Regions from separate parts of the Homo sapiens genome. Here region 2 is linked to region 1. A link means that fine-mapping ties the variant in region 1 to the expression of a gene that starts in the linked region. Tissue or cell type: blood mononuclear cells. Region 1 holds a variant in brackets; the other region holds the start of a gene. All regions are shown on one strand. Distances are between the middles of the regions. Region 1 has its middle 16 kb from the start of KRT2. Region 2 holds the start of KRT73-AS1 (KRT73 antisense RNA 1).

Region 1 (3,025 bases):
TGTCAAGACCAAAGCCCTCCTTGCTAGGCTTCCCACCCCAAACTGTCCACCTCCATAGCTCCTTTGTCTGCCTCCATGGTCCCGGCCTCCAGCCATGATGATGGAGATGCTCTTTCTCCCCGCAGGGCTAACGAGACTCCAGCTGCTATAACCGCCTGGCTCAGCATAGCCTTGGCTTCGTGCCCCTCTGTGCTGTTCCACAAGAGTGGCAGCCTCTGCCAAGGCTGTGCTGCTCGTCTCTGGCACCCTCCCAGCAGCATGACCCAGCCACTACCAAAGCCTGTGCTCTGGCACCTCAAGCATACACCTGCCTGCTCACAGTGACTCCAAGGCAGTGAGTGACATAGAGAGGTGGGAAGAAGGTGTCTCCATGTTTCCCTGCCAGAATGCTGAGGTGTCACCTTATACCTCTCCTGGAGCTGGCAGTGGGCCAAAGACAAATTCATGGGTTTGGCTACCCTGACACTAAAAGTGACAAAAAAATAAATACAGCCTTCTACTTGGGAACAGTCAGTCTAGTAACTATTGCTTAGTTAGCAGGGTTTTCTTATTATGGTCTACCTGTCAACTATCTGCTGACCTAGGCAATATGAGGTGTGTATGATTATGCCCAAAAAGCTATCAGGTCGGGTATTTTCTGAGATTGTTGCTATTTCAGCACTTTTAGTTTCTACCAGAGTGATATTAAAACCAGAGATACATCTTCCTAAAGCTTTAGGACAGAGACACTGATGAATTAGAAACTGATATCTGTAAAGGAAAGTGATTTAGAGACACATACTAAATGGAATTTTCTACAGTTGGTGAGAGTTACTTCCACCTCCCTACCAAAAATATACACAGTATCCTGTATATATTTTCCCAAAACAAGTGTCCAAAAAAGGGATTAGGAGTTAACTGTGTCCACCAATGAAATATTACATAACTAATAAAAATTACTGGGCTTATGCAAACCAAAAAATTCTGTTTTAATGTTAAGTGGGAAAAGGAAAAATCAAAATTGAATAATCAATATGACCACTAAATCCTAGGCACAGAAAAGAAGGCCTAGGATAAGACTGGAGGTATAGGATGAGCAGAGAAATATTGTTTAACTGACTAAAGCTAAATACTTTAGAAAAGCATGTTCAAAAAGAAAATACATCAAAGTGTTAACAGTAGTTGTTTTGTGTAGTGGTGAATTTTTTAAATTTTCTATATTTCTATTTTTCCAAGATTAAAATAATAAGCAGGTATAATTTTTACAACAGAAGCAATCAAGCCCCATAAGGCTTCAAACTCCTCTATGGGGAGGTGAAGCAGGTCTTCTTTTAGAAACTGTGATATATATATATATATTGGAATACTACTCAGCCACAAAAAGGAATGAATTGACAACATTTGCAGGATGGGACTGGAGACTACTATTCTAAGTGAAGTAACTCAGGAATGGAAAACCAAACATTGTATGTTCTCACTCAGAAGTGGGAGCTAAGCTGTGAGGATGCAAAGGCATAAGAATGACACACAGAATTTGGGGACCCAGGGGGAAAGGGTGTGAAGGGGGTGAGGGATAAAGGACTACAAATCAGGTTCAGTGTATACTGCTTGGGTGATGGGTGCACCAATATCTCACAAATAACCACTAAAGAACTTATTCGTGTAAGCAAATACCACCTGTTCCTCAAAAACCTATGGAAATAAATTTTTTTTTTTTTTTAACATTCAAGCAGGCCAAGAACATTGGGTCCTTCTTTCGGTCACTCCATAACTATTTGGCCAGCTGCCTGAGAGAATATTCTGG[G/C]CTCAGGATTCTCTTTGTATATGTTTTATCCAGGTCAGAGAAGTGCAGACTTACTCTTGTCTTGGGCCCCTCCTTCTCTTCTTTCCCCTGAGTCCGCATACCTGTAAAGTCACCTGTGAGATGACACGCGTGCCTGGCAGGGCCCAACAGCCCCTCTCAGCTAGTCTCCTTCTCTGGATCCAGGTGAGAAGCAGAGGTGTCTTCCCCATGCTATGATCCTGTACCCTTCCTGCTTAGCCAGGCCCTACCCTGCGGTCCCACCCACTGTCTGAGTGCCCCTAACCCGGCCACTGGGGAGAGAGTCAGGCAAAGGAAGAACACGTGGTAGGATATGTGGTGGAAATGATGTGAAATGCAAGAGCCATAGCCGTGGTTTCCAATGCCAGCTCTACCACTTCCTAGTTTTGTGATTGTGGACTTTTCAGCCTTAGCTTTGCTATCTGTCAAATGTGGTGATAATGACACCTGTCCTTGCTACATAACCAAGGTGTTATACAAACTGTTCGGGGTTGGCGGGGGTGGGGGGGCAGTGGAAATAAATGTTAGTTTTTACCACTGAAATTTTACAAAGATAAATGTTTAAGTCCACATCTTTTCCCAGCAGCAGCAACAGCAACAGCAACAGCACGGGTATCATGTATTGCCCGATTATTGTGTTTCACAACTGTAAGTGCTTTACAAAGATAATCTCCTTTAATCTCCACAACAGTACTATGAGGCAGCCACTGTTATTATCTTCATTTTTTTAGTAGTGAAAACTGAGGTTTAAAAGATGAAGCACTTTGCCCAAATGACGCAACTAGTTAAGAATTAGAAACAGGATTTGAACCAAGGCCAACTGATTCAAGAGCTCAATACAGAAATATTGAGTTGGGCCCATAAATGCTGAGGAGACATGAATTGGGACCCCTGCTTGGAGGTAGTGCACTTTGAGCAGGTTTCAGGGGAAGAGAGGAAGCAGGGAGAGGGCAGTCTTATCAGGGATGAGGTGGGAGCCTCACTAGCCCCACTAAAGAGAGTTGAGAAAGAGGTCTTAGCAGGGGTCACAGAAAACCAGAAGGGGGAGAGTGAGACCAAGGTGACAGGACAGGCCAAGGCTAACGAGATTAACTATGACAAAAGTGACAGGAGGAGGGTGGGTGCCCAGGCCGAGACAGAATATAATTGTACAGTCTCCACTATTTCTTTTCTCCTCCTTTTCAGGCAATTCTGGGATTCTAGTGAAAGTCATCACCTTCTTAA
Region 2 (2,712 bases), 26 kb before region 1:
CTTTCCCCAGGGGACAGATGATGCTTGAGCATCAGATAAGCCAGCAGGTTCTTGCATTTAGCTTTACAATACCTTCTGAGTATTTTTCAAAAGAATTTCCTGATTGTTAAAATTAGGGAGTTTCTGCTGGTCCCACTATAAGAAAGAGACTGCCAAACCCTGTGGGGCCAGCATTAAACTGGCTTGCACAGTGGTCCACACACCAGTCTCCACTCCCATTGAGGAGGCACCACTCTGTGCTCAGTTTCCTTCATGCAGGAGAGCCGGTGTGGGGGTGACAGAAGAGGGGAGGGGCTGAGAGTTTCACCACAGCAGGCAGGAGATTGCTATGAAAGAGGCTAGTGTGCAGTATCAGAATGTCCTGGGCACTAGCTCCACCTGGAAGAAGTAGCTCTGAATGGGGAGGCCGCAGGTCTCAGCAAGGAAGGTGAGTATGTGACCAAGTGGTCAACAGGCAGAGCCAAGCTCTTCCTCAGGGGGCTGGGCGGTGGACACCCACCCACTTTGTGTTTGTTGATGGACTAAAAGTATTCCCTCAGAGTCATGAAATACTCACAAATGCTCACGGAGTTGGTATATTCTCCGGACATCCTGCAAGAGAGAAAAGCACAGGAGAGTCTGAATCACGTGGACTCCCATAGTGGCCCTCACTGCCTAAACACAGGCTGGGGATCCCCAGCCAGACCAGCTCAGCCTTCACGCACCCCACACTTGCCAGATGGCACTGGCTGCCCTTGCATGTCTCTAAGCCCTCCCTCTCGCTCCTCAATCTACTCTTCCCACTGCAGAGATGTGGAACCTGCAACTTTGGAACCCCCAACAACATTACCACCCCCAAGGTCCCTCCTGCAGGGTTTCTCTTGAACCCATTTCTTTACTACTGTGAGCAGCTGTCTGAATAAATACATATGTGGAAAGATCAGGATCAGGAGTTGCTACTAATGAACGAACTGTATGATTTTGGGGCAAGTGACTTCTCTCCAGGTCTCAGTTATAAAATGGTGCTTGGTTAGAACAGGGTTTTTCAAATGTTCATGCTTCGTGTGCCACCCTTCTGACTGTTGCTAGGACCATGTTTGACTTGTACTGTTAGATATTTAGTATTTTTAATTGACTCTGCCTTTTACGACAAAAGTGCATTTCTTTTAAAAAGAAGTTTTTTATCACCAGGGTAAATAGAAACCAGTATTATTACCTAACCAAATAAGAAAAAAAGTAGCAGTAAAAATAAATATAATGAAAAGAAAACAATTTAAAACTTTTGGGCTAAATAATGCTATTATTTTCCCAGAGATGCTGCACCTGAGATCTACTGTCTCTTTATCAATAGGGGATATTTGTAAGTGTCTGAGAGGTGTTTTTGTGTTTTGTCTGTTTGTTTGTTTGTTTGTTTGTTTGTTTTTGAGATGGAGTCTCATTCTGTCACCCAAGCTGGAGGACAGTAGCAGGATCTCAGCTCACTGCAACCTCAGCCTCCTGGGTTCAAGCGATTCTCCTGACTCAGCCTCCCAAGTAGCTAAGATTACAGGCATGCACCACCACATCCAGCTAACTTTTGTATTTTTAGTAGAGACGAGGTTTCTCCAATGTTGGCCAGGCTGGTCTCAAACTCCTGACCTCAGGTGATCCACCCGCCTCAGCCTCCCAAAGTGCTGGGATTACAGGCACGAACCACTGCGCCTGGCCATCTGAGAGGTGTTAAAGACACAACAGCACCCAGCTAAGACTTTCTCCAAAGAGTCAAAAGAGAACTGTAAAGGAAATTGCTGTCACATTATCTGGCAGGATGCTGTTTGAAACTATGCTTGTGGGTGAAGTAAACACATCGCCAGCTCGCCGCCCCCTCCCCCCCGCCCCCAACCACACTCTGGGAAACTTTAAGGTGGAGACTTGCAGTTTCTTCCAGTCCCTCGGTCCCACCCACCTGCACTCCTCGCCCTCCAGCAGCTTGCGGTAGGTGGCGATCTCAATATCCAGGGACAGCTTCACGCTCAAAAGCTCTTGGTACTCGCGCAGCATCCGTGCCAGCTCCTCCTTGGCCTGCTGCAGGGCGCCCTCCAGCTCATCCAGCTTGGCCCTGGCATCCTTGAGGGCACAGTCCCCCCGCTGCTCGGCGTCAGCGATGGCCGTCTCCAGGTTGGCACACTGGGGTCAGGAGGTAGCATTTCTCCCTGAGTTCCTCCCTGGGCCTCGCTTCACCTCTCCCATGCTCTCAATGGTTGAGCCCTCCTCTGTCCTGCCCCATGTCCTGGAGCAGAGACCCAGCCACATCCAGGTGGAGTCCTGTCAACCTGAGACTGAGAGGCTTGCTACGCTGGGCCCCACAGCTTTATGAAAATAATCTGCAATTGTTCCAAACTTCAGATGGGAGCTAAGGGTGAGGGATGAGAGCAGGACCTCCATTTGAAGAAGGGGATTCTGAAATGGATGCTCAAGAGAAGGAGGGGGCAGGGGGTGCTAAGCAGTTCACCCCTCCCTTAGGAGTGAGTAAGGAAGGCTCCAGTCCCCTTCACCTGCTTCTTCACACTCTCAATCTCCGAGCGCAGTCTTTGGATGAGACGGGTCAGCTCTGAGATCTCATTTTTGGTGTGTTTCAGGTCATCCCCATGCCGGCCGGCTGCTAGCTGCAGCTCCTGGAACTAGAGGAAAAGGAACCAAAGCAAGAACACTGACTCAGGGCTTGGCTGGGATCAGCCTGGTACAGAGACTGTG

The links. PIP is the estimated chance that this variant, and not a neighbour inherited with it, causes the effect.
Region 2: it holds the start of KRT73-AS1, and the variant in region 1 is fine-mapped to the expression of KRT73-AS1 in blood mononuclear cells (TOPMed, PIP above 0.99).

What each region holds. Positions count from the first base shown.
Region 1 is chr12:52,634,277-52,637,301 of GRCh38, forward strand. It overlaps the pseudogene KRT128P. Among named protein-coding and RNA genes, the nearest start is that of KRT2, 16 kb to the right of the region's middle. The variant G/C (reference allele first, on the strand shown) is at 1,784.
Region 2 is chr12:52,608,691-52,611,402 of GRCh38, forward strand. KRT73-AS1 (KRT73 antisense RNA 1) reads left to right here and starts at 1,161. Exons shown (of 3, transcript NR_126005.1): 1 at 1,161-2,712. KRT73 (keratin 73) reads right to left here. Exons shown (of 9, transcript NM_175068.3): 6 at 2,514-2,639; 7 at 1,925-2,145; 8 at 557-591.